Linked DNA regions of Homo sapiens: region 1 is linked to region 2. The links come from fine-mapping of genetic effects on gene expression. A gene starts in region 2. The other region holds a variant in brackets. All regions are shown on one strand. Distances are between the middles of the regions.

The links. PIP is the estimated chance that this variant, and not a neighbour inherited with it, causes the effect.
Region 1: its variant is the best candidate, but not a certain one, in a credible set for the expression of THAP11 in blood mononuclear cells (TOPMed, PIP 0.60).

The regions. Positions count from the first base shown.
Region 1 is chr16:67,878,685-67,881,580 of GRCh38, forward strand. It overlaps EDC4 (enhancer of mRNA decapping 4), which reads left to right. Exons shown (of 29, transcript NM_014329.5): 11 at 53-155; 12 at 273-453; 13 at 553-625; 14 at 728-819; 15 at 903-1,090; 16 at 1,166-1,287; 17 at 1,379-1,532; 18 at 1,873-2,306; 19 at 2,392-2,496; 20 at 2,581-2,733; 21 at 2,813-2,849. Among named protein-coding and RNA genes, the nearest start is that of NRN1L, 4.8 kb to the right of the region's middle. The variant G/A (reference allele first, on the strand shown) is at 1,649.
Region 2 is chr16:67,841,188-67,844,083 of GRCh38, forward strand. It overlaps THAP11 (THAP domain containing 11), which reads left to right and starts at 1,133. Exons shown (of 1, transcript NM_020457.3): 1 at 1,133-2,896. The coding sequence starts at 1,368. The coding sequence ends at 2,312. All of the region lies in intron 1 of CENPT (centromere protein T), which reads right to left. RefSeq lists enhancers at 847-896, 1,349-2,095, 1,807-1,966, 2,407-2,456 and a silencer at 1,147-1,326.

The DNA of each region.
Region 1 (2,896 bases), 37 kb after region 2:
TGTAGCTTCCTTCAGTTCTCAGGCTCATTCACTCTGCTTTGTGGCTCTCTAGCTTCTCCCCAGATATCTTCAGCTCAGTGAGTGTGCCCCCTAGCCTCAAGGTTTGCTTGGACCTCTCAGCAGAATACCTGATTCTCAGCGATGTGCAACGGAAGGTAGGCTGCCATGGGGTACCCTGGGCAGAGTTGGGATTATAGAGGAAGGCCGGGGGGCAGGTGGCGCATCACAGCCCTTAGCCTCTGAGCTCAGCTAGGAACGTTCTGCCTGTGCAGGTCCTCTATGTGATGGAGCTGCTGCAAAACCAGGAGGAGGGCCACGCCTGCTTCAGCTCCATCTCGGAGTTCCTGCTCACCCACCCTGTGCTGAGCTTTGGTATCCAGGTTGTGAGTCGCTGCCGGCTACGGCACACTGAGGTGCTGCCTGCCGAAGAGGAAAATGACAGCCTGGGTGCTGGTGAGCTGCCTCAGGGTCAGAGCTATGTGTCCATATATCTAGGGGGTTGTGGAGGCACAGAGAGGGCCAGGGGCTTCATCATCCACACTGTCCTTTCAGATGGTACCCATGGAGCCGGTGCCATGGAGTCTGCGGCCGGTGTGCTCATCAAGCTCTTTTGTGTGCATACTAAGTGAGTGAGTGGGGAGGCCCGCCAGTGTCCTGTCTGTGTCTGTCTCCACTCTACTGACCCTTGCCCTTGGAGCACTTTATTCTCCCCCTTCTTTTCCTGCAGGGCACTGCAAGATGTGCAGATCCGCTTCCAGCCACAGCTGAACCCTGATGTGGTGGCCCCACTGCCCACCCACACTGCCCACGAGGACTTCAGTGAGTAGGGCGTGAGAGGGAGGTAGGGTAAGTTGGACTGACCAGGGTCTGAGATCTAACTCAAGTGGCAACTTGCCCTGCAGCATTTGGAGAGTCTCGGCCCGAACTGGGCTCTGAGGGCCTGGGGTCAGCCGCTCACGGCTCCCAGCCTGACCTCCGACGAATCGTGGAGCTGCCTGCACCTGCCGACTTCCTCAGTCTGAGCAGTGAGACCAAGCCCAAGTTGATGACACCTGACGCCTTCATGACACCTAGCGCCTCCTTGCAGCAGGTACTCTCCCAGGGTAGGGGGACCTGGGAATGCCTCAGCCACAGGCCACAGGTCTTATTTCCTGCATCTCCCCAGATCACTGCCTCTCCCAGCAGCAGCAGCAGCGGTAGCAGCAGCAGCAGCAGCAGTAGCAGCAGCTCCCTTACAGCTGTGTCTGCCATGAGCAGCACCTCAGCTGTGGACCCCTCCTTGACCAGGTGAGGCAAGGGTCAGAGATGGAGGATGGCAGGGGCTGGTACCAGATGATGCCAAGCTCTGGCTGCTGACACCTCAGCCTTCCCCCACCAGGCCACCTGAGGAGCTGACCTTGAGCCCCAAGCTGCAGCTGGATGGCAGCCTGACAATGAGCAGCAGTGGCAGCCTTCAGGCAAGCCCGCGTGGCCTCCTGCCTGGCCTGCTCCCAGCCCCAGCTGACAAACTGACTCCCAAGGGGCCGGGCCAGGTGTGTGACTGGGTGTGTGTGTGAAGTGTGGGGAGCAGGTGGGCAGCAGCAGGGAAGGTGGGTGGTGGGCTCCTCCCAGCCCCCTGCTGCTGATCCTGCTCTACCCGACATGGTCC[G/A]TGTTTCCCTGAGGTCATTTCACCCTCCTGTGTTTCCTGGTGGGTGTCTCCTCAGCCTCCCTGTCCCCACCTCCTCTTCTTGGCTGTGGCCTCGTTTTTGACCTGTATCCCCACTTCCCTGCTGCCCTGTCTCTCATTACTGCTAATACTAATGCCTCGTCTCTGTGCCCCCCATCTCTGCCTCACTTCCTGTCACTTAAGCCCCCATCTTTGGCCCACCTCAGGTGCCTACTGCCACCTCTGCACTGTCCCTGGAGCTGCAGGAAGTGGAGCCCCTGGGGCTACCCCAAGCCTCCCCTAGCCGCACTCGTTCCCCTGATGTCATCTCCTCAGCTTCCACTGCCCTGTCCCAGGACATCCCTGAGATTGCATCTGAGGCCCTGTCCCGTGGTTTTGGCTCCTCTGCACCAGAGGGCCTTGAGCCAGACAGTATGGCTTCAGCCGCCTCGGCACTGCACCTGCTGTCCCCACGGCCCCGGCCAGGGCCCGAGCTCGGCCCCCAGCTCGGGCTTGATGGAGGCCCTGGGGATGGAGATCGGCATAATACCCCCTCCCTCCTGGAGGCAGCCTTGACCCAGGAGGCCTCGACTCCTGACAGTCAGGTTTGGCCCACAGCACCTGACATTACTCGTGAGACCTGCAGCACCCTGGCAGAAAGGTGAGGAGCTTGGGAGGGGAAAAGTGTGCTAGCAGGAGGGGCTTCAGATAGATTCATCCATGGCTAAGTTGGCCTGTCCTCCCAGCCCCAGGAATGGCCTTCAGGAAAAGCACAAGAGCCTGGCCTTCCACCGACCACCATATCACCTGCTGCAGCAACGTGACAGCCAGGATGCCAGTGCTGAGCAAAGGTGGGAGCCACTCTACACCATTGCCCTCATGGGGGGATGGGCAGCAAGTGGGCAGGGGCTTACTCCTCCTTCCCCTTCCCACAGTGACCATGATGATGAGGTGGCCAGCCTTGCCTCTGCTTCAGGAGGCTTTGGCACCAAAGTTCCTGCTCCACGGCTGCCTGCCAAGGACTGGAAGACCAAGGGATCCCCTCGAACCTCACCCAAGCTCAAGAGGAAAAGCAAGAAGGATGATGGGTAGGGAGAAATCCTAGGGAGGGAGAGGGTGGTCTCTAGGCTGCCTCACATAGCCTGAGGTGCTTCTCGCCTATGGCAGGGATGCAGCCATGGGATCCCGGCTCACAGAGCACCAGGTAAGTGAATGAGCCCACTTTGTACTTGTGGAACTTCACCCTGGGCG
Region 2 (2,896 bases):
CTTTACAAAAAAAAAAAAAAAAAAAAAAAAAAAAGATTCCCTCAAATAAGTTGAGGTGGGGGGAGGTGTATTGTTACAATGCAAATCCTTTCCCATAAAATCCTTTAATAGCTCTCAGTGGCCTGCAGAATAAAACCCCAAATCCTTAACATGTCCCAGTTTGGTATTTTCCTACGCTTGGCCCTACCCGGGCCACCCCTTTCCAGGCTCTTTAATGGCGGAGCCTAGCTCTTTTCTGCCATGTGGCCTTACAGACTGGTTCCTGGGACAAGAATTGGCTACTTCTCCCTACCCAAGCTTTCGTTCGTTTTTTTATTCCTGGCCCCCACCACCTCCCCCCCATTTCTCTGCTCTCCTGTTAATTCCTTTGGAGCGATTACTATTTGTGAGTAGACATCCATTCGCGTGCATTCAGATCTATTATCCAAAAGACAGACGCTTATCCGTCTAGGTAGTCAGGCTCCAAGAGAGGAGCCCAGTCGGTCTGACTCCCGCAAACTCCCGGCACCGTGTCAGCCACATAGTAGGCGTCTACTGGAGACTTTGTTTAGATCAGTTAGTCAACGCAGGCAGCAGCTGAATCAGGAGAGAGTCCCCAACGCAAAGAAAGGGGCTCCTGAGACCCTTCGGGGCGCCGAGGCCCAGGTTTCGTCTCCCTCTGCTGCAGCAATGCCGTCGACTCAAAGGGGCTCGGGGCTGGGGAACTGGTTCTGGCAAACAGCACAACCTCGCCCGAATCCTGGTCCGCAGTAACTCGATCTTTCCCTTAGGCGGCGCTTCGGAGGGAAGGCGCCTAGTTCAGCGCGAGGCATCACGGGATTTGTAGTCTCCGTGGGCATATACCCACCGCGCTTGCGCACCGGTGAGGCGCGCACCGCCCCGCTCCACGCCCCTATCAGGATTCGGGTCCTCGTGAGGAGCAGTCCAGGCGACAGCGTTCCAACCTAATACGCCTCTCTCGCCCGCCGGGGACAAGACGGGCTGGGGAAAGAATCTGCTCTTCGGAGGCTATCGCAGTGCCTTGGAAGGCGGCAGGAATCCGCACACACCCGCCCCGGAAGTGAGCCGCTTCTGGCGCGGGGCATTGTGGGGGGCGTAGTCTCTTTCTCAGGCGGTCCTTCGCGGCGTCCCCGGGGCCCACTCCCGAGCGCAGGCGGGCAGCCAGGCGGGCGGCGCGGCGCGGGCCGGCAGGAAGCGTATTCTGGGCACGGGGCGCCGGGCGGGCCGGCTGCGCCGAGCGGCAGTGGTGGGATACCACCCAAGGCCTCGCGCGGCGCCGCCCGTCGAGGGGCGGGCGGCGGCGTAGCCACTGGGCCGTCGAAGAGCGCAGGAGGCCGGTGGGCCGGGCCGGGCCGCGCGGCGCAGCCATGCCTGGCTTTACGTGCTGCGTGCCAGGCTGCTACAACAACTCGCACCGGGACAAGGCGCTGCACTTCTACACGTTTCCAAAGGACGCTGAGTTGCGGCGCCTCTGGCTCAAGAACGTGTCGCGTGCCGGCGTCAGTGGGTGCTTCTCCACCTTCCAGCCCACCACAGGCCACCGTCTCTGCAGCGTTCACTTCCAGGGCGGCCGCAAGACCTACACGGTACGCGTCCCCACCATCTTCCCGCTGCGCGGCGTCAATGAGCGCAAAGTAGCGCGCAGACCCGCTGGGGCCGCGGCCGCCCGCCGCAGGCAGCAGCAGCAACAGCAGCAGCAGCAGCAACAGCAGCAACAGCAGCAGCAGCAGCAACAGCAGCAGCAGCAGCAGCAGCAGCAGCAGTCCTCACCCTCTGCCTCCACTGCCCAGACTGCCCAGCTGCAGCCGAACCTGGTATCTGCTTCCGCGGCCGTGCTTCTCACCCTTCAGGCCACTGTAGACAGCAGTCAGGCTCCGGGATCCGTACAGCCGGCGCCCATCACTCCCACTGGAGAAGACGTGAAGCCCATCGATCTCACAGTGCAAGTGGAGTTTGCAGCCGCAGAGGGCGCAGCCGCTGCGGCCGCCGCGTCGGAGTTACAGGCTGCTACCGCAGGGCTGGAGGCTGCCGAGTGCCCTATGGGCCCCCAGTTGGTGGTGGTAGGGGAAGAGGGCTTCCCTGATACTGGCTCCGACCATTCGTACTCCTTGTCGTCAGGCACCACGGAGGAGGAGCTCCTGCGCAAGCTGAATGAGCAGCGGGACATCCTGGCTCTGATGGAAGTGAAGATGAAAGAGATGAAAGGCAGCATTCGCCACCTGCGTCTCACTGAGGCCAAGCTGCGCGAAGAACTGCGTGAGAAGGATCGGCTGCTTGCCATGGCTGTCATCCGCAAGAAGCACGGAATGTGAACTGGTGCCCCGGCAGCCTGCTGGACTCCCAGACCCCATCCAGCCAGGGGACCGCAGGCCATTGTTGAACTCCTCTATACTCCTGGGCACTGGTTGACAGTACTGAGGCTTAAGGCAGCTGGACTCTCTTGCTGGTGACCTGGCATCCTCAATTGTTTCCTCCTGAAGTGGAAGCTGGGGCCTTAGACTCTGCCCTGGTGACACCAGCAATTATGACTTTGTCTACCCTTCCTCCCCAGTTATTGTTGCAGATTCTGGTTAAGCAGAGGCTTCAGAACCACTGAACTTGAAACTTACCCTCTAGGGATGCAGGTGGGATGTCCAGGGACTATAGGTTTGGGAAAACCATACCTTAAGGTTGGTCAGCAGTCAGACAACTCTAATGTGTGTAGTGATAAGAGATTCAAGTAACATCAGTTCTCCTCCTTTTCATGCTTTTCCTTCCCAGGTGCAGCCTGTGATTCTGATGGGGACTGGTAAATCTGTGCCTCTGCCTCCTAGGACTTATTTTCCCAGGAGGCCATTTACAAGGGGATCTGGATGACCTGCTGATGGAGATCCAGCTTGCCAGGGACTTAGGTTTA